Homo sapiens: one gene and its partners. The protein of the gene in region 2 purifies or fractionates together with the protein of the main gene of each other region. This does not show direct contact. Each region holds a gene or a part of one and is shown on either strand. Other genes may lie near its edges.

Region 1 (7,032 bases), on a different chromosome or scaffold from region 2:
GTAATAACAGATTCCTATTGCTTAGAAGCCTATTCGCAGACTAGTTGGTATTGATATAATACTATAGTTAATCGTACCTTCTAGATTTGGGAAACCAGGCTGCTCTGCACCAATTCTATAAACCTAATTAGATAATGTAAAGTTAAATTTTTCCTCAAGTTTCAGTGTACCAGTTCTTGTATTCAGTGAAGTGAATCAGGTCTCCCTGTCGGCATGTTTAAATGCTTCTTGGGAGTGATGCCTGAAAATGCTTCCAAGGCTGGGAAGCCCAGAAGGGAATTTATAATGGTGCAGAAATGAGAACATTTCTCATTTGGAAATATTCAGGATTCTTAGCAAATTAAGCAACTGAAAGTTAGCTCTTCCCTTTCCAAAAAGACATAGGCCCTAGGTGACTGCAGTTCATGTTGTCTCAGTGTTGCTTTCAGGATCACAGGGCTGAACTATAATTTAATGATAAACCTCATTTTTAAAAACTAAGAGTATTGAAATGCTGAGCATACATTTTCTCTACGCTGAGAATAGCATAGTTTTGCTATTGTTTTTTTAATATCCTTCAGTCAAATTAATGTACTAAAAACTAAAAATTGCCTCATGTTCTCAGAATAAAATTTATTTTCCAACTTTAAATATTAAATTGGTTTTCTAGTCACAGCTTTTCAAATCACCAGATTTCAGACATGAGTAAAAAAAGACTAATATGTGTTGCAATATCTATCTTATATAGTATTATATATGATCACAACTAAAATATATATACATAGGTGTCTGTGCGCACGCGCGTGCGCGCACACACACACACACACACACACACACACACACACACACACACACAGACTTGCGGATAGGGAGAGGTGGAAAGGCACATAAAGTTATGGTAGCCCAGATATAACCAAAAATGGGTTAAGTTCCTCTTTGATAGTTACAGTTCTCTAATAAAACTTTTTCTCTATTTGTATTTTTCCCATAGTGAAGATGACTCTTCACGACCTGAACTTCTTTATCATCTGAACCAGTTTTTCTGGGCCACAATATTTACTGAGATGCTAATGATGATGCTGCTGTAGTCCCTCTCTAGACCAAAGTACTACTGGTTAGGTTAGCAGGCAGGTAATGCTTCCACAGCCACTCGTTTCAGCTTTCATTCTAATCAGTTCTCAAACATTTTAACATCTGAATTTGTTGATGGCCCTGTCCTTAAAGAAATTATTTTTGCTCACGGTTAGGCAATATCGTCTAAGTCATTTTACTTCTGTCTATGCCTTCTTTCATCTCTCCCCACCAACCTCCTAGAGCCTAAAAGAAGGCATTTTCCATGTTTCTTCTTAATACACACATTTTTCTCCTCCATCCACACAGGCTCCTTTAACTTACCAACCCACTCCCTGTGCTTCAGACACCACCCTCTGGCCAATGAAATGCATCCACTTCTGATTCCATTCTGAGCTCCATCGACCTGGTTAAGACACCTTCACTTGACTGACCTGTGTTCTATAAAATACTATATGCCAAACCAAACCAAATTTTTCATTTTCATTTTGCAGCCCCCAAATCTATATAACCTCTAGACTGGCACTCCTCAAAGCATGATCCCTGGACCAGCAGCATCAGCATCCCCGGGGAACTAGTTAGAAATGCAAATTATCTGCTCTACCCTAAATCTACTCAATCAGAAATTCGGGGGATGGGGCCAAGTAATCCGTTTTCTCACACCCTCTAGGTGACTCCGAAGCCTAAAGAAGTTTGAGAGCCAGTGCTTTGGACAGCTGTATTCCTTCTAAAGGCATCAACATCCTTTCCTTTACCATCAAGAATGATTCCTCCTCCCACTGGGCAATTCTATTATACTTCCATAATCTCTTCCTCTGTATTCAGTTTCTAGGTCCTTCTCCTTAGTTTAAGCTTCATTATATCCTTCGGACATAATTCTCTCCTCACTAAAATCTAGCTTGCACTGTTTCCAGATTATTCCTTATAGCCCAGCTCTGACCATTCAAAGTCTTTCATGGCTCAGATTCTATTTATCTTTCTAGAGTCCTCTCTTCCATTCCACCCCTCTCCAACCCAATTTTCAGCCATGTAGTCCCCAGGATTGGTCACAGTTATTTATGCTGTTGCACAGTCTCCTCTGTCCTCATCTCTCCAGCATCTCTTTTTATAAGACAAGCTCTCTGACAGCATCCAGTCCCATACACTAGATGCTCCTTTCTCTGTGCTCCCACAGGACTCAGTGGACTTAACTAATACAGTTTTTGTCTTACCCAGCACAATTGTTTACTTGTGCATCTGGCCCACAAACTGTGGCCAAAAAGGGTTATTACTCATTTTATTTATCTAGGAAAATACACTTTAAGCAAGACATCCATATAATTTACCATCCAACCCAGGACACTTCTGAGAGTGAAAGGATAATAATGGCTAATGGGCAGCAAATGTAAACTAAAACAAATAATCACCCTAATAACAGACCACAAGAGCCACACACCCCCATCATCTGAGTCCTGACTACATCTTCAAGCTCATCCCGTACTGTACTACCTCCAAACTCAACAAACTCCGGCCATACTGGCTTCAAATACTCCAGCCTCATTCCAACCTCAGGAATTTTGCACTTCTGTTCCCTCTGCCTGGAATGCTTTTCCGCCAGATTTGCATGATAGTCTTACACTTACTCCTGAAGACTCTGCTCTGGCCATCACCTTCCCTGACATTCCCTGAGTGGTCCCTTCCAACCCATTCTCTTTCTTTTTGTTTTTAATTTTTTTTTTTTGAGATGGAGTCTCGTTTTGTTGCCCAGGCTTGAGTGTAGTGGCGCGAGCTCCACTTACTGCAACCTCCGCCTCCTGGCTTCAAGCAATTATCCTGCCTCAGCCTCCTGAGTAGCTGGGATTACAGGGGTGTGCTACCATGCCTGGCTAATTTTTGTATTTTTAGTAGAGACAGGGTTTCACCATGTTGGCCAGGCTGGTCTCAAACTCCGGACCTCAAGTGATTCGCCTGCCTAGGCCTCCCAAAGCGCTGGGATTACAAGCATGAACCACCGCACCAGCCTCCCATTCTCTTTCATATTACCATGTACAGATGTTCCTCGACTTACAAGGGGTTACACCCTGCAACAAACCCACTGTAAACTTGAAGAATCATAAGACATCTTAAGTCCAGATGTGCTCAGACTTATGACAGGGTTACACACCGATAAACCCATTGAAAAGTCAAAAATCGTAAGCTGAATCATGGTAAGTCAGGGACCATCTATATTGTCTTCAGTGTTTATCTGAAATTACCCAGCTAGCGTCTACATATCCACCTTTTAATGTAGCCCATGTGTACTTGTCTGTGTTGTTAAAAACTGTAGTGCAAGATCAGAGAGCACAGCTCTGAAGTTAGAACACCTGAGATTGAATCCTGGCTCTACAATTAATTAAGTGAATAAACTTGGACAAAGAGTTCACCTCTCTATACCACAACAGTCTCATCTATAAAGTTGGGATTCCATCGGACTTGCAATAGAGGGTGGTTGTTACAAATAAACAACCAAATACATGTAGAATATGTATTAGGCCCAAAGTAAGGATTCAATATATGTAAACTATTATTGTTGCTGTTATTACTGAAATCTTTAATTTAGTTACTTTTCAGATTGTACATTCATTCTTCAGGAATGAGAATCGAAATTCAAAATATGAACAAAGACAATTATCTAGTTAGGAGCTGAATAATCACAGTCATTTTCCTTCATTCAATAGCTACTCAAATCTTGCTGACCAACTTTTTTAATAACTCAAGTTAGAATTTCCACATATTCTGTTTACAGATGGCTCAAGCTCAGAATTTTGCTTTTCATTCGTGAATTATTTTCTCTCTTCCTCTTTCTCCAATTTACTATTGTCTAACAGTTTATACAGGAACCCAAATCGTATCTCACACGTTATCTCCCATCCCATGCAACCAGCCTAAGTCACAAAATAGACTGCTGTTCAAAAGTTTTCATTCTCTCTTTACTAGTAACTGTGCATTCCCCAAAGGCCATTTTAAGCCTTCTCCACCTACTGGTTTGACTACTGATGAAACATATCCTTGTGACAGTTCTTGTATTATTTCTTTACATTGCTACTGGATTAAGCAATAGCTCTCCCCACCCCCAACTAGATTGTGAGAGCAGGAACTCCCACTTCAGGTGTTATCAGTATTCTTCATGAGGTCTTAGGGAGGGGAGGATGGGGATGGGGGAGGGGCAAGCAGGTGGTAACAGGGCTGATGCCTGACCTCACATAGACCACTGGATGGAAAACTTTTCCACAGAAGTGATAAATACAACAATTCTTAGGAATTCGCCAAACATTTCCGAAATGTTCAGACCTATGTGGGAGACATAAATGGATGTACCTTAGTTTCTTTGAAAAATATTTAATATGTGCCTTCCATAAAATTAGCACCAGGAAAGATGGAGGAAATACTCAACAAACAGGAAACATGAACCCTGCCTTCAAAGGGCACATGGTCAGTGGCTGGAAGCCTTGTTTGGTTTAGAGGACACTTTAGGAAACATGAAAGCTTCTGATTATCAACCTAGAAAAAAATGTAGATGTATGCAAAAGTTCTGCATTAATTTCAGGAAGTCTATAAACCCCAGACTTCTCAGACTTGGTGATGTGATATTTTTAATCATTATTATGTGTGGGGGGAGAAGGGGGATGGGACACTGAAAACAGCAAAGGAAACAAAAACCAATCCTAAGGTGTATAGCCTGGGAAACTGAGAGAACAGTGACCACTTAAGACACTACACTTTCACTAAGTGATAGCTCCATCCCTAATAGTATAAACAGAGCTTCCATTTGAAGTACAATCTCATGTTCAAGGGCAGAATTTTTCAGGTTACAACTGATCATCACTGAGATAAAATGGCTTTGGTAAGGTGGAACTTGACTGCCAGGGTAATCAGTTCAGCCACTAATCCTCATTTAAGCTATATTCCTTTCAAACCTGTTAGCTTGCCTATCACATAAAACCTCTTGGCCTACTAGTTCCTGAATTAGTCCTATTATATACACCCTGAACCTAAGTGGCATTAATGACTTGACTAAAGTTGCATTTGCATATCCAGAGAGTCATTAGTTTACACACAGCTTCTCACCAGTACTGAATGTTTTAATGCAGGGGTCCCCAACCCTGGGTCATGGAGCATAAACCCTATTGTGAACTGCATGCAAGGGATCCGGGTTGCACACTCCTTATGAGAATCTAATACCTAATGATCTGAGGCGGAACAGTTTCATCCCCAAACCATCCCCCACCCAACCCAACTCCCCCAGTCTGTGGAATAATTGTCTTTGACAAAACCAGTCCCTGGTGCTAAAAAGGTGGGGGACTGCTGTTTTAATGGATCTGTCAACATTTCCTTTAAAAACCTTTATTTTCAGAGGCTTATGGGTCAACTGTAGACAGTCACTCAGGGCTAAAACCTGGGATAAATGGTGTTAGTCTGGGACATAATTTATTTAATTAAAGGAACTTTCTGTGCTTTGCAAGTCCAAGCAGATAATCTTAATAAATGCTGACCTTAAAATATCCAGAGGGCAAAGACTAAAAAAAAAAAAGCTTCCCATAATCATAAAATACAATACAAGAAGGTATACATTTTGCTTTGAGAACTTTCCATAATGAAACAAATAATCTATCATCCTAGGCCTCCTGACACCTTCACTACCATATCCAATAGCCAAATCCTGATGCCTTTGCATCTTTAGGAGCTCTTGAATCAATTTATTTTTTTCTATCTCTACCACCGCCCTGCCAATCTAAGCAAGGATTATGTCCCACCTGAATAATGATGACCCCCACCAGGACTCCTGCTACCTGTTCTATAGACAAATACATACTTTCTGTAGGCAGCCAGAGTGATCTTTTCAAAACACAAATCCACTCTTCCCTACTTAAAATCTTTCAACGGCTTCTCACCGCACTTAAGATCTCCTCCTTAGCATGGACTACGAGACCCATGCTTTCCTGTGTGGCATCATTCTACTTGTCATTCTCCACGTTCCAACAATATTTATCTCCTAGTTTCTCACTATTTCACTCATGCTACCTCCTGCCTCAGGACCTTTGCCCAAATGCTCCTTCTCAAGAATGCTGCCACCCACTTCCAGATTAACTACTTTTCTTGAAATGTTCAGATTTCGCCTCAAAAGTCAGAGTAGGCAGCTAGGCAGACATGAGCAGGGCAGGAAAGGCCCCCCACCACCAGGAATGTCAGGCGGCCATCAGGTGATGGTCAGGCCGTTGTTAAACTGTCTCTCTGAAATAATAATTGGTCGCGCCAACACCATGGAAAGGCAGTCTCCCATTAGATAGAAAACACCTAAAGCTGGTTATCAGCAGGTTCCCACTAAGATCTCAGGAGTTGGGCAAGTGGGCTCCAGCATGTGCACTAATAGGCAAAATGGCAGCTTTTAACTAGTATATGCCCTTCCTCTAGGAAGGCTCAAATTGTAAGGGAAAAATGCCTCAAGTGAGCATGAGTAAAACTTCAGTAAACACACTGCAGGCAGCCCCTCCCCGCTGCTGGCAGGCCACTGCGCATGCAGACAGCCCACCCCAAGGGAAGAATCACGGGAGAAGAAACGCAAACCCTGGAATCATGCCAATGTATAAAACCCCAAGTCCAGGGTCAGACGAGGTACTTGGATTTCTCAAGTAGCCCACATGGCCTTCTTCAAAGTGTACTTCCTTCCGTTCCTGCTCTAAAGCTTTTTAATACTCTCACTCCTGCTCAAAAATTTGCCTCGGTCTCTCACTCTGCCTTATGCCCCTCCAATAAATTCTTTCCCACAGGAGGTAAGAATCGAGTTGCTTCAGACCTGTGTGGATTTGCTACTGCTAATAGTCATTTCTTCAAGTAAGGCTTTTATGACCAAATTCCTCCATTTTCTTGCCCCCTATGGTTTTCACTATGAAAGCAGTAGCACAATTTTTATTTATATATTTATCGAGGTTTGATTGCTGTGTGGTTTTTACAAGATCCATGAGA
Region 2 (7,032 bases):
CAGGGCCTGGCATATGTCAGTCTTTACTATGGCAATGAATTCAGCTGTTCTTTTTTTTTTTTTTTAACAAGCAATCAAGTGTAGACACTATATACAGTTACTACGCAGGCTGCCTGGGTTCAAATCCCAGCCCTGACACTGACTAGCTCCATGACCTGGGGCAAGTCACTCAGCCTTTCTGTGCCTCAGCATCCCCATAGGAAAATGGGTTGTGGTGGTGCACACCTGTAATCCCTGCACTTTGGGAGGCTGATCTGAGAGGACTGCTTTGAGCTCAGGAGTTCAAGATCAGACTGGGCAATGTAGCAAGATCCCATCTCTACTAAAAATTTAAAAAATGAGGTTGGGTGTGGTGGCTCATGCCTGTAGTCCCAGCACTTTGGGAGGCCGAGACGGGTGGATCACCTGAGGTCAGGAGTTTGAGACCATCCTGGCCAACATGGTGAAACCCCGCCTCTACTAAAAATACAAAAATTAGCTGGGTGTGGTGGCACGTGCCTGTAGTCCTAGCTACTCAGGAGGCTGAGGCAGGAGAATCACTTGAACCTGGGAGATGGAGATTGCAGTGAGCCAAGATCGCGCCACAGCACTCCTGCCTGGGCGACACAGCGAGACTCTGGCTCAAAAAGATAAAAATAACAATAATTTGTTATTGACAAAATAATTTTGTGTAGGCATGGTGGCATTAGCCTATAGTCCCAGCTACTCAGAAGGCTGAGATGGGAGGATTGCTTGAGCCCAGGAGATGTAGGTTACAATGAGCTAAGATCGTGTCACTGCACTCCAGCCTGGGCGACAGAGCAAGACCCCATCTCAAAAAAAAAAAAAAAAAAAAGAAAGAAAGAAAGAAAGAAAAAAAAAAGAAAAGAAAAACAACAGGTTGTTGGGAAGACTTAATGAGTTGATATCATAAGGTCCCAAGGCCTTGGCTGGTGCATACAAATGCTAAGTGCTGGTAATGATGATTAATGTTGATGTTGGCTTTTCTTGTCTGGATTTTCATTTCTGATTTTAGTGTGAACTGAATCCTTTATGGAATTAGATGAGGCTCACAGACATGAAAAATACATCCCACCACCCAACTTCCCCTTTTTTCCTGCTGTCCTGCATCAGGGAATGGCAGCTTGAAGTTGGCATTTGGGAAGATTCATTCATTCATCCCACAGTTAGTTTCTTTATCTATTTATTTGTGTGGCCATTCATTCCACATGCCTGCAGACACACTTACAGTGGATAAGTCTAAGAGCTGTTCCTGGCCCCTCGTTCCCCAGCTGCATGTCCTCTCTGGTCCTCATTTTGCACATCTGTAAAATGGAGCTAATTACCAGGGACAGGCGCAGTGGCTCATGCCTGTAATCCCAGCACTTTGGGAGGCCGAGGCGGGTGGATCACAAGGTCAGGAGATAGAGACCGTCCTGGCCAACATGGTGAAATCTCATCTCTACTAAAAATACAAAAAATTAACTGGGCATGGTGGCACACGCCTGTATTCCCAGGTACTTGGGAGGCTGAAGCAGGAGAATCGCTTGAACCTGGGAGGCAGAGGTTGCGGTGAGCTGAGACTGCACCATTGCACTCTAGCCTGGGTGACAGAGCAAGACTTTTTTCTTTTTTAAAACAAACAAACAAAAAAACTACCTCCTAGGAGAGTTAGAAGGGTCCACTGAATTTATATCATGCCTCCCCAACATGTTTTCACCATGCCACGCAGTAAGAAACACATTTTTACATCCTGATGTAGCCCATAGCTCTGTAGTCTGGGGCAAACTGCTGCATTGCTCAAAGCCTCAGTTTCCCCATCTGTAAAACAGGGAGAATAACAGTCCCACCCTCAGAGTGTGGGGATGCAGTGGGATTACATGTATATGGATGCAAAAAAAAAAAAAAACAAACAAAAATTAGCATAACCTTTACTTACTGAGAGATGTACTGTGATAGTCTGTAATCGAATCTATTTCATACTTAAAAAAAAAACATGGTTTTCCAACTCACTAATTTAATTTTATGAGGCACTCATGAGTAATACACTGGTGTCTGAAAAAGTCTGGGTTAGACATGTGGGGTGCTTAGAATAGTGCCTGGTACATAGCAGGCACTCAATACAAATGCACTATTATGATTAGCATTTCTGCATGCATTTGTGCATTTATTCAACAAATACGCTTGTTGAGCTCCCGCCAGATACACGTGTCCTCCAGGGCTCCCCCAGAGGGTCCCAGCCTGCTCCACTCACCTGGGTACAGCGGCTCCTGGTCACTCCTGAGGAGAACAGCCACTGCAGAGAAGGGAGGGGTGAGGGCAGGCAGGCTGGAGGCTGCAGGGGCCAGGGGAGGTCAGAGGCACAGGAACCGCTCTCACCAATGGCCCAGGATGCCGCCCCGATGGCTGTCAGAAGTAGCAGGGTCCCCGCAGTGAGAGCTGCCACCTTGGGTCTGGAGCAGCATGGCACAGTCCGGCCACCTGCAACAGACACCATGCTGGGGCCACAGCCAGGCCTGTCCTCATTGCGGCAGGGTCTGGGCCCGAGGCCAGCTCTGCCCTGCCCCCAGGGCTAACTTATTATGCCCAAGCATGTCCTCCCCAGGCCCAGTTTCCCGGGGCCAGCAGTTGACAGGGCTGTTCCTCCCCTGCCGTGTGAACAACCAGGTGCCCAGCTCCCCCAGGGTTCCAGCTGGGAGGGGGGCATGGCCGGGCCACCTGCCACGGTCTCCACCTCCGCCCTGCACTTTCCTGGCACTTAGGGAATGTCTCCTCCCCAGTGACACTGTGCTTTTGTATTTCTGTCTTTGCTTTGGGCCATCTCTTCTTGGGACTGTGACCCCCAACCTTTGCCCTCTTGGTAGCTCTCTTCCCTGCCGCTGGCATTTCCTCGCTGCCTCAGTCGTTTCTGCTGTTCTAGATGCTTTGCCCCTAGATACCCCCTAAATCAGACCTCTCTCATGGTACCCAGTTGCAAGATCAAATTTGCCCCTCCACTTGAAAATCTGCCAGCCTCATTTTATTTTATGTATTAATTTTTTTAGCGACGTGGTCTTGCTATGTTGCCCAGGCTGGTCTCAAACTCCTGGGCTGAAGCGATCTTCCTTCCTCAGCCTCCCAAAATGCTGAGATTACAGGAGTGAGCCACTGCGTCTGGCCAGCCTCATTTAAAAATATTGACCCTACCCCTTCCTAGCTGGAACCTAAGGCAGGTGCCATCATATCTTTGAGCCTCAACTTTCTTATCTATTAAATGGGCATCCACTGAGCACCTACTTCTAAAAATAATAATTTAAAGTTATTTTCAAGAAGAAGAAGAATAGCTCAAATTGTATTGATGCCTCCAGGTGCTAAGCACCGTTCTAAATACATCAGCTCATTTAGTCCTTATTTCAATCCCACAACTATGATTCCTGTTTTTGAGATAGCTCAGAGAAGTGGGGTCACGTGCCCACAGTGACAGCCTGGAAGAGGCAGAGCAGCGTCCAGAACCCTGGGCAGGTTTGATGCCAGGTCCCCTGTGTACAGCCACGAAGCCATCCTGGCTCTCACTGTGCGGAAGTGCCTGGCACATAGCAAGTTCTCTATAAATGCTTTATAAATCATCAGAGATGTGTGGGCCTGAGCAACTCCCCTCCCCTCTCTGAGCCTCAGCCTCAGTTTTTTTCTTTTCCTTCCTTCCTTCCTTTTCTTTCTTTCTTTCTTTCTTTCTTTCTTTCTTTCTTTCTTTCTTTCTTTCTTTTTCTCTCTCTCTCTCTTTCTTTTTCTTTTTTTTTTTTTTGAGACAGGGTTTCACTGTGCTGCCCAGGCTGGAGTGCAGCGGCGCGATCATGGCACACTGCAGTCTCAAGCGCTCAGGCTCAGGTAATTCTGAGCCTCCCGAGTAGCTGGGATTATAGGCGCACACCACCACACATGGCTAATTTTTGTATTTTTTGTATTGACGGGGTTTGCCATGTTGACCAGGCTGGTCGTGAACTCCCAGACTCAAGTTATCTGCTTGTCTCAGCCTCCCAAACAAAGTGTTGGAATTGCAGGCGTGAGCCACCGCGCCTGACCCTCAGTTTTTTCATCAGCCTAAAGAAGCTTTATTTGTTTACCATCCTACTGAACATCCGCTGTGTGCCTGGCACCTTTCTAGGTTCCGGGAACATAACCCAAAGAAGACAGATAAGGTTACGACTCTCAGGGGTTCACGTTCTCATGCGTGTAGGTGGGGAGTGGGAGACATTAACAAGGAAACAAGTAAATGAACCCAATAATTTCCAGATTGTGGCAGAGGCTGTGAAGAAAACCGTGCAGGCTGGGGCAGCAGGTGGGCTTCTGCAGGGGATCAGGGATCACAGGGCCTCCCCTAGAGGAGACTTCTGAGCTAAGCTCTGAAAGGTGAGGTGCCAGCCACACACAGACCACAAGGAAGGGCACTGTGGGCAGAGGGAACAGCACAGGCAAAGGCCTTGAGGCAAGAATAAGCAGGCTCTCTTATGTCAGAGGCTGGAGAGGCCATCGAGATGGCCAGATGGCCAGAGCTTGGGGAAGGTAGTGGGAACCAAGGCTGGGGCCAGCTGGGGAGGCCTGGTGGCACAGGAAAAGGGATTTTATTCCCAGGGCAAAGAGGTCCTGGAGATTAAAAGCCAACTCCTAGCCGGGCTCGGTGGCTCACGCCTGTAATCCCAGCACTTTGGGAGGCCGAGGTGGGCAGATCACGAGGTCAGGAGATCGAGACCATCCTGGCTAACACGGTGAAACCCCGTCTCTACTAAGAATACAAAAAATTAGCCGGGCGCAGTGGCAGGCACCTGTAATCCCAGCTACTCGGGAGGCTGAGGCAGGAGAATGGCTTGAACCCGGGAGGCAGAGCTTGCAGTGAGCCGAGATCGCGCCACTGCACTTCAGCTTGGGCGACAGAGCGAGACTCTGTCTCAAAAAATAAATAAATAAATAAATACATAAATAAATAAAAGCCAACCCCTTCACTAGGGATTATAAGAAGGCCAAAGAGTAAAGGCTGCTGAAAGCCTTCAGCTGGGCCTGGCTTGGGTTCAACTGCCCTTGGCAGCCGCAAAGCACCCCAAGGTGGCAGGAGCTCCCAGCTCGCCCATCTGCACCCATGGTGATGTGGCTGGTGAACCCGGCACCAGGCCAGCACCTGGAACAGAGCAGGGAGTGGTCTAGGACCTTCCTGGTGTGGCCATTATCTGGGTGTCTTAAGAATTTGAGAGCTCAGGCTGGGCATGGTGGCTCATGCCTGTAATCCCGGTCCTTTGGGAGGCTGAGGCAGGTGGATCACTTGAGGTCAGGAGCTCAAGACCAGCCTGGCCAACATGGTGAAACCCCGCCTCTACTAAAAATACAAAAATTAGCTGGGTGTGGTGGCGGGCGCCTATAGTCCCAGCTACTCGGGAAGCTGAGGCAGGAGAATCGCTTGAACCCGGGAGGTGGAGGTTGCAGTGAATCAAGATTGCGCCACTGTACTCTAGCCTGGGCAACAGAGCGAGACTCTGTATTAAAAAAAAAAAAAAATTGAAAGCTCAGTGGCTCCCATCAAGGCATGAGGAAACACTCTCTTCCCCAAAAGAGGCCCCAGTGGGCCAGACCAGCCCAACTACTGCCGGCTGACCCCTGCCTGTCCTGCGAGGGGTTCTCAGGCCTGCCCCCCAACTCTGCCCAGGACCACTCTCCAGGTTCCAGCAGGAGGTCTTGGCTCCCGACAGCCACTGGGCTGGTCTTGCTTGCTTTGTTTTCAGCTGTGCCTGCCAGGGCTCTAGGCCATGCAGAATGCAGCCTAGAGGCCTTGGCACATCTGGTGGGACAGGAAGCAATGCCACTATGTATGTGTCTCCTAGGGTGAGAGGAAGAACCTCCTTCCATGCTGTGTGGTTCAGAGGACTTCAGCGCCTCCAGTGGGACAGGAAGCATCTGCATCCTGGGGTTCCCCCAGTATGAGAGGCATCCTCCCTGCATGTCTCTACTGGGACAGGCAGCATCCTCATCTGGCCCACGGTGTGGGACGCATCCTCATCCTCCCTGCGTGTCTCTACTGGGACAGGCAGCATCCTCATCTGGCCCAGGGTGTGGGACGCATCCTCATCCTCCCTGCGTGTCTCTACTGGGACAGGCGGCACGTCAACATCAATTCTTTGATCCCAGCAGCAGGGCTATTTCCCTTGGTAAGCCAGACCTCCCCCACCCCTACATCTCCCTGAGACTCTCTGCCCCTGCTTCTCCAGGCCCCTCTGGATGCCTTGGGTCTTCTCATAGGTCAGTTCTTCCGCCTCCACCATTTGGCTGCAAAGACCCCCACGCGTAACACCTTTGGCTCTCTGGCTCTGAAAATCCACTCAACTGGTGGCTCCGTGTCTCGGGCCTCATCTTACATGACTGCAGCTTCCTGTATAAATGCTCTCCTCTTTGGACTTCTGGGACACCAGGCGCACCTGATTTTCCTTCCCGCCTCTGAGGCTGCTGTCTTCACCCACCCTCTACCTACTCCGTAAAATCCAGAGTTTGTAGGGCTGGCCGCAGCCTCCCCCTGCTCCTCCTTGCCCCTAAGTCTGTCTCACCCACCTCTGTGGACTCAGTTTCCCCTCTGTCCCCAGCCCTAGACCCTCTTCCAGGTCCCAGGTCAGGGCTCCTGCAGTCCTTTAAATACCTTTTAAATACCTTTCCCTGGGACCTCCTAGTCCCTTTGCCCCTACCAGGTCCCAGAATGTCTCCCCAATGTCTCCCCAAGTATATTCTTCCTCCCGGTCCTGTCTCAGAGGCCCTCACTCCTAGGACCATCCCCATCTGCATAACATTCCCCTCCCCCGACAGCCTGCCAATCCTCCTGAGTGACTCTCCTTCCCCCGTTTCCTTCTTTCTCTCCATCTGCACCTTGCTCCGGCCCCATCCAACCGCTGGGCTCAGTCTCCCTTCTAGCGCACCCTCCACACGGAGGCTTGGGGAACCTACTGAGACACCAAATCCAACCTGTCCCCTCTTTACCTATAGAACCCTCTGTGACTCCCTAGTACCCCCCAGACAGCTTAAGTCCCTCAGCCTGGCATTTCC
Region 3 (7,032 bases), 210 kb from region 2:
GTTCCCCTGGAGGTCCTGGGCTGAGACCACGGAGCAGTAATACACACCACTGTCCCCCCACGCCGTCTGGTCAAAGGTCAGGTCAGCATCTGAGTCGGGATGAAAAGGCGTGAGGGCACCTTGGAGGCTGGGGCACCTAACCCCTGGAGGGCCAAAGACCCCTTCCCAGCACACCCAGGAGGGGGCAAGCAGTGGGCTGGGCAGGCTGCAGATGATCAAATGCATATGCAAAGATTCCTACCAAGGGCACACGGCCTTTTACACCCCGTTCTAAACACCTGGACTACTGCAAGAAGTCTGTGAGGCAGGACCATTATCACTTCTGTTTTGTGGATGACATTTCGGGTCTGGAAAAGCTGCACAGCTCTTCAGTATAGAGCAGTAATGGTGCCCTCGGAGCCTGAGGTTGTTTTTTTTTTTCTTTCTTTAGAGACAGGGTCTCACTCTGTGGCCCTGGCTGGAGTGCAGTGGTGTAATTATAGCCCACTGCAACTTCAACCTCCTGGACTCAAGCAATCCTCCCACCTGAGTAGTTAGGACTACAGGCACTCCACCATGCCCAGCTTTTTTTTTTTTTTGTTTGAATCGGAGTTTCACTCTTGTTGCCCAGGCTGGCATGCAATGGTGCGAACTAATCTCGGCTCACTACAATCTTCGCCTCCCAGATTCAAGCAATTCTCCTGCCTCAGCCTCCCATGTAGCTGGGATTATAGGCACCTGCCACCACACCTGGCTAATTTTTGCATTTTTAGTAGAGATGGAGTTTCGCCATGTTGACCAAGTTGGTTTTGAACTCCAGACCTCAGGTGATCCACCCCCACCTCAGCCTCCCAAAGTGCTGGGATTACAGGCGTGAACCACCACACCCAGCAGTCTGTGCTTCTCAACTTACAGCCATCTCTGAACCACCTCTCAGAGCCAAAGTCAGAACTCCCCTGATGTGAACTGCCACCCACAGGGCCTAGTGTAGACCCCAGGGATGGGTGTGGAGATAAACAGGCCAGATTCTAGGTACCAGGAGATGCCCAGGCACCCATAAGGAGTGGGTGTGTCTATGTGGGAGAGAGAGACTTACCCTCCCAGTGCCTTGGTTCCTCCCCCTCCCCTTCCATCCCCACATTCCAGGTCAGGCCCAGGGCTTGGGGACGCTCTTGTCTGAAGCAGCTGCAGGCAAGGAGCCTGTTAACTCTACCATCCATCAAAGTGTTTTGGCACATCCTGTTTCCTCTCTGCTTCTCAGGCACTAATTAAATACCTTCAGCCTTTCACCAGGGTGGGACCAGGGCACCTACCAGGCAACTCTGCCTTAAGCCACTGGGGACAGAAGTAGGCTACATTGGGCATCTCGGGCAGGAAATGCCCTCAGCTTCCCGGCCTCTTTCCTCCTAGCCTGACCTGCCTGCCACCTTCCCAAGGACGCGCTGCCCTCCTGCATGACAGCTCTGTGACGGCAGCAACCACGCGTGCTGCAGTCCACAGCACCTGGCACCCCCAGGAATGAAAGAACCCTTGCTTTCTTCATAAGGAAGGCCTCATGTCTACAGAAAAATCCTCCTTGCAACAGTGTCTGGCTACAGCATTCCAGACGCCTTCCCTAAGGTCCCATAGTCCCATGGTCCCCAAGGCCCTTGGCACGACGTGGTCTCTAGCTACCGTGCCAGCCTCACCCCTGCCATCGCCTTGGTTCTAGATTTGCACTGTCCCCCTGTGGGCTGGGCTTCTCCCACGGCTCCCCCACCCAACTGCTGAAGTCTTATCTCCCAGCTTAGGGGCCGACCATCCTTTGCCTGGTGAAAATGTGGGCTCCGTGAGGCAGAGCCCTGTCTGTCTCAGCCACTGCTGGGTCCCCAGTGCCTGACACAATACCTGGCAAGGAGCAGAAATGAACACCCTCTTGGCCGGACATGGTGGCTCACACCTGTAATCCTAACACTTTGGGAGGCTGAGGCAGGTGGATCACTTGAGGTCAGGAGTTCCAGACCAGCCCGGCCAACATGGTAAAACCCCATCTCTACCAAAAATGTAAAAAATTAGCTAGGCATGGTGGCACGCACCTGTAGTCCCAGCTACCCTGGAGGCTGAGGCAGGAGAATTGCTTGAACTCAGGAGGCAGAGATTGCAGTGAGCTGAGATTGCACCACTGCACTCTAGCCTGGGCAGTAGAGTGAGACTCCATCTCAAAAAAAAAAGAAAAAAAAGGAAACGAACCCCCTCTCCTCATGCTAAAGTCCCTTAGCTTTTGTCATCTGTCTCATCATTCTGGGCACATGGCTGGATTCAAAGACACATTTCTTTCTTTCTTTCATTCATTCATTCATTCATTCATTCATTCATCCTTCAACAATAATTACTGAGTACCACCTATGTTCTAGGCAGTATTTGAGACACCTGGGATACCACAGCAACAGTTCTCAAACTGCAGCCTCTAGACCCTGGGGTTCCCCAAGACGTTTTCAGGAGATCCTGAGGTCAAAGTTATTTTCCCAACAATACTAACTGTGGAGTTTTCCAGAGGCTACGTGACATACAATAGATATCACAACAGACTGAAGCAGCTCTGAGAAGCCAGGCTCTTCTATCCAGCCAGGCTTCGGAGACTTGCAAAAAAATAAAACCATGCCACCTTCTCATTCACAATGTTTTGTCTGATTTCAGAAAATGATTATTTTTTTCATAAAAGGTATTTTATTTATGTTAATCTATAATGACTTTATTGTCATTTAAACTATTTTGTAAACTTTTCTCATTCTGCTGCCTATGAAAACAAACTCTTTGAGCTCTTAATTTTTTTTTTTTTTTTGAGATGGAGTCTCGCTCTGTTGCCCAGGCTGGAGTGCAGTGGCACGATCTTGGCTCACTGCAGCCTCTGCCTCCTGGGTTCAAGCGATTCTCCTGCCTCAGCCTCTTGAGTAGCTGGGATTATAGGCGCCTGCCAACATAACTGGCTAATTTTTGTATTTTTAGTAGAGACAGGTTTTTCACTGTGTTGGCCAGGCAGGTCTGGAACTCCTGACCTCAAGTGATCTGCCCGCCTGGGCCTCCCAAAGTGCTGGGATTCCAGGCATGAGCCACCTCGCTAGGCCTGAGCTCTTAATTAACCTCAAAATCAAGAATATAAAAGAGGCCTAAGCCCGGAACCTTTGAGTTATAAATCCTTGCCCTTGCCCTTCTAGAGTTCAGATTCTAACTAGGAAAGAAAGACAAATATAAAATGTTAACTATGTCACATATCAGACAAAGATAAGCTGTATGGAGAAAACGAATCAGGGACAGCAGAGAGTGCCAGGCGTGGAGTGGGGGCTGTGCCATTTTAAACAAGGAGGCCAGGGAAGGCTTCCGGATATGGTGACCTTCAGAGCAGATGTGAAGGGGTTGAGGACACGACTTACCCTAATGATCAGGCATCTAAGCCACTGTTTTTTTGTTGTTGGTGTTGTTTTTTAATTTTGAGATGGGATCTTGCTTTGTTGTCCAGGTTGATCTTGAACTCCAGGGCTCAAGTGATCCACCTGCCTCAGCCTCCCAAAGTGCTGGGATTACAGGCATGAGCCACCGCCCCTAGCCCCCACCGTTTATTGAGCTCTTACTATGTGCTGGGCCCCTCTACACACATTCTTTCATTGAATCCTCATAGAATTCCAAACTAGGTTCTCCTAAATCCCCAGGTTTGCCACAATGCCCTCTTCGTCCATCATTTTTCCACCTGTATCTTTTTTGAGAGGGCCTAGCTTGGTCGCCCAGGCTGGAGTGCAGTGGTGCGATCATGGGTCACTGCAGCTTCGAACTCCTAGGCTCAAGCAATCTTCCCATCTCCAGAGTAGCAGGGTGTGCCATCATGCCCCGCTAAATTTATTTTTTTGTAGTCTCTGGGTCTCACTGTGTTGCCCAGGCTGGTCTCCCAGCTCCTGTCCTCAAGCAATCCTCCTGCCTCGGCCTCCTGAAGTGCTGGGATTACAGGCATGAGCCACCAGTGTCTTCAGATCAGACCCTGACCGTGCCTCTTCAACACTGGAGCTCAAGAGCTGGTCCCTGCTATAAACAAAAGAGGTGGACAGGAACCGCCTGCCATGGCAAACAGATCATATAGGCCAGGGGTTGAAATCTGGCATCTTGTAGGCCGAGGCTGGACCTCACTGTGTTTTGTTTGACCTGTCTGACATTTTCAAAACTCACAAAAAATATAGTTTTCCGGCTTCTTTTGATCCATCCTAAGGTCTGGGCACACCTTCTTCCTGCAGGGCGTACCCTGTTCCTGGTCTTGGGCTGGCCGTGATCTCATCCGGGCTGAGCACTGCTTTCATTGTTTTAGGTCGGGGAGAAGATGCCAGGTCTCCAGTGGGAACAGCAGCCAGGCCTCCTCCACATCTCCAACCTCTGGTTCCTTCTTTATACACCGCAAAGGTGACCTTCATGATTTCAGAGGTCCCATGGGCTCTCTGCTGCAGTGCAGCTGGAGGTGGGGGCACTTGGACCCCAAGGAGCCCGAGGAGGTGGAACAGGGCCTCCTGTCCAGGTGCTGGTCCATCACCCAAAGCATGGAAGGACAAAGCAGGGAATGAGCCACCGGACCGGAGGGATGCCTGGAGTGGACAGCCTTCTACCTTATCCAGGACTATTTTCACTTTTGAAACCAGGATAGGCCGGGCATGGTGGCTCACATCTGTAATCCCAGAACTTTGGGAGGCCAAGGCAGGCAGATCACCTGAGGTCAGGAGTTTGAGACCAGCCTGGCCAACATGGCGAAATCCCATCTCTACCAAAAAGATACAAAAATTAGCCAGGTGTGGTGGTGTGCACCTGTAATCCCAGCTACTCAGGAGGCTGAGGCGGGAGAATCACTTGAACTTGCGAGGCAGAGGTTGCAGTGAGCTGAGATTGCACCACTGCACTCCAGCCTGGGCAACAGAAAAAAAACAACAACAACAGAAAAACCCCAGCACAGTGGGTGACCCTAGGAACACCACGGGGAGTCCACTTTTCCCCATCCTCAAAGCTGAAACAGAGGAAGCTCCTATGGCTATGGGATTTCCTGAAAGGACACACACAATGGATGTTTACACTCAGGGCCTTGATCAAACACAGGCCCAGGTGGGGGTGGTTTGAAAGACCCAGGCCTGTGAGGCCCCTGGAGCATGCAGGGCCCCTTCCCCGAGACAGAGCCTGGGGGGTCATCCTGGACTTTTGCGTCCAGCAGAGGAAGCACCCTCAGTATTTGGCTTGTCCTGGCAGAAGCTTAGCAGTCACGCCTGGTCCAGGCAGGCACAATCCCTGGGTTAGAGAGGAGGGGGCCTAAGCAGCCCTGTGACCTCAATAACAGTAGGATGCTCATGGCTGAGCTGCCCACAGAAATTCAGGGCAAGCAAGCCTGGTGCCTCCTCTGAAACAGGACTGACATAGGCTCAGCCCCTGGAACCCTGCTTCCCATCGATCCTCTAGCAGAATGTGCTCCAGTTCCTGGCTTCTTGGGGTCTGCAAAGGGATGCTCCCTTCCCCGCTCTGCCCCATGCCCAACTTTAAATTCTTGTTTAAGACAGTGAACACACACTAAGACATGAGGTACGTGAGCCTTCATCCCTGGCACCCTGCCCCTCCCCTTCCTCTCTGCCTTCTAGGTTCTGTAAGGCCCAGGCCCAGGCCCTCCTCAAATCATATTCACAGCCCAAGTCATTCCATGTAGCACATCACCCAGTGCTATTTTCTTTTTTCTTTTTTTTTTAAGACGGAGTCTCACTGTTTCCCAGGCTAGAGTGCAGTGGCGCAATCTTGGCGCACCGCAACCTTCGCCTCCCAGGTTCAAGCGATTCTCCTGCCTCAGCCTCCCGAGTAGCTGGGATTACAGGCGCCCACCACCACGCCCGGCTAAATTTTGTATTTTTAGTAGAGATGGGATTTCACCATGTTGGCCAGGCTGGTCTCGATCTCCTGACCTCAGGTGATCCACCCACCTCGGCCTCCCAAAGTGCTGGGATTACAGGTGTGAGCCACTGCGCCCAGCCTATTTTCTTTTCATTTCAAGACAGGGTCTCACTCTGTCACCCAGGCTGGAATGCAGTGGCACGATCATGACTCACTGAAGCCTTGACCTCTCAAGCCCAAGCAATCCTCCCACCTCAGCCTCCTGAGCAGCCGGGACCACAGGCACATGCCACCATGCCCAGCTAATTTTTAAATTTTTAAAATTTTTGTAGACATGGGGTCTCATTTTGTTGTCCAGGCTGGTCTCAAACTCCTAGGCTCAAGTGATCCTCCTGCCTTGGCCTCCCAAAGTGCTGAAATTTACAGGCATGAGCCAATGCACCCAGCCTGGTGTTATTTTCTTTGCAACACTTAGTACTCTCTGACATTCTTATACCTTGACGGAGTCTTTTTTTTTTTTTTTTTTTTTGAGACAGAGTCTCACTCTGTCGCCCAGACTGCAGTACAGTGGTGCGATCTCAGCTCACTGCAACCTCTGCCTCCTGGGTTCAAGCGATTCTCATGCCTCAGCCTCCTGAGTAGCTGGGATTACAGGCATGTGCCACCATGCCTGGCTAATCTTTGTATTTTTAGTAGAGACGGGGTTTCACCATGTTGGCCAGGCTGGTCTGGAACTCCTGACCTCAGGTGATCCACCCACCTTGGCCTCCCAAAGTGCTGAGATTACAGACGTGAGCCACCGTGCCCAGACTTTGAAATTCTCATACTCTTTCTTTATCTGCTTATTTACTGCCAGTCTCACTCCACCAGAATGTCATCTCCTTGACGACAGAAACTTCAGCCATCCCAATCACCTCTATCCCCAGCACCAACGACACATAGTCGATGCTTGATAAATACCAAATGAATGAATGAATGACTGCCCCTTACTTAGTCCCAACAGGCACATCCTATCAGGAGGCAGCATTACAGTTAAGAACAAGGGGCCGGGCGCGGTGGCTCACGCCTGTAATCCCAGCACTTTGGGAGGCCGAGGCGGGCGGATCACGAGGTCAGGAGATCGAGACCATCCCGGCTAAAACGGTGAAACCCCGTCTCTACTAAAAATACAAAAAA

Evidence for each region.
Region 1: the proteins of HPN (region 2) and GALNT7 purify together in Homo sapiens (co-immunoprecipitation; 2 studies listed by BioGRID and IntAct, with this or other methods). This does not show direct contact.
Region 3: the proteins of HPN (region 2) and LSR purify together in Homo sapiens (co-immunoprecipitation; 2 studies listed by BioGRID and IntAct, with this or other methods). This does not show direct contact.

What each region holds. Positions count from the first base shown.
Region 1 is NC_000004.12:173,171,811-173,178,842, reverse strand, and holds part of GALNT7 (N-acetylgalactosaminyltransferase 7), read right to left. Parts: intron 1-7,032. UniProt on the Homo sapiens protein: Glycopeptide transferase involved in O-linked oligosaccharide biosynthesis, which catalyzes the transfer of an N-acetyl-D-galactosamine residue to an already glycosylated peptide.
Region 2 is NC_000019.10:35,044,718-35,051,749, reverse strand, and holds part of HPN (serine protease hepsin precursor), read right to left. Parts: intron 2,488-7,032; exon of another isoform or gene 2,461-2,487; coding exon 2,359-2,460; intron 2,276-2,358; coding exon 2,234-2,275; intron 1,305-2,233; coding exon of another isoform or gene 1,229-1,304; intron 1-1,228. UniProt on the Homo sapiens protein: Serine protease that cleaves extracellular substrates, and contributes to the proteolytic processing of growth factors, such as HGF and MST1/HGFL. Plays a role in cell growth and maintenance of cell morphology.
Region 3 is NC_000019.10:35,252,002-35,259,033, reverse strand, and holds part of LSR (lipolysis-stimulated lipoprotein receptor isoform 2 precursor), read right to left. Parts: intron 90-7,032; coding exon 1-89. UniProt on the Homo sapiens protein: Probable role in the clearance of triglyceride-rich lipoprotein from blood. Binds chylomicrons, LDL and VLDL in presence of free fatty acids and allows their subsequent uptake in the cells.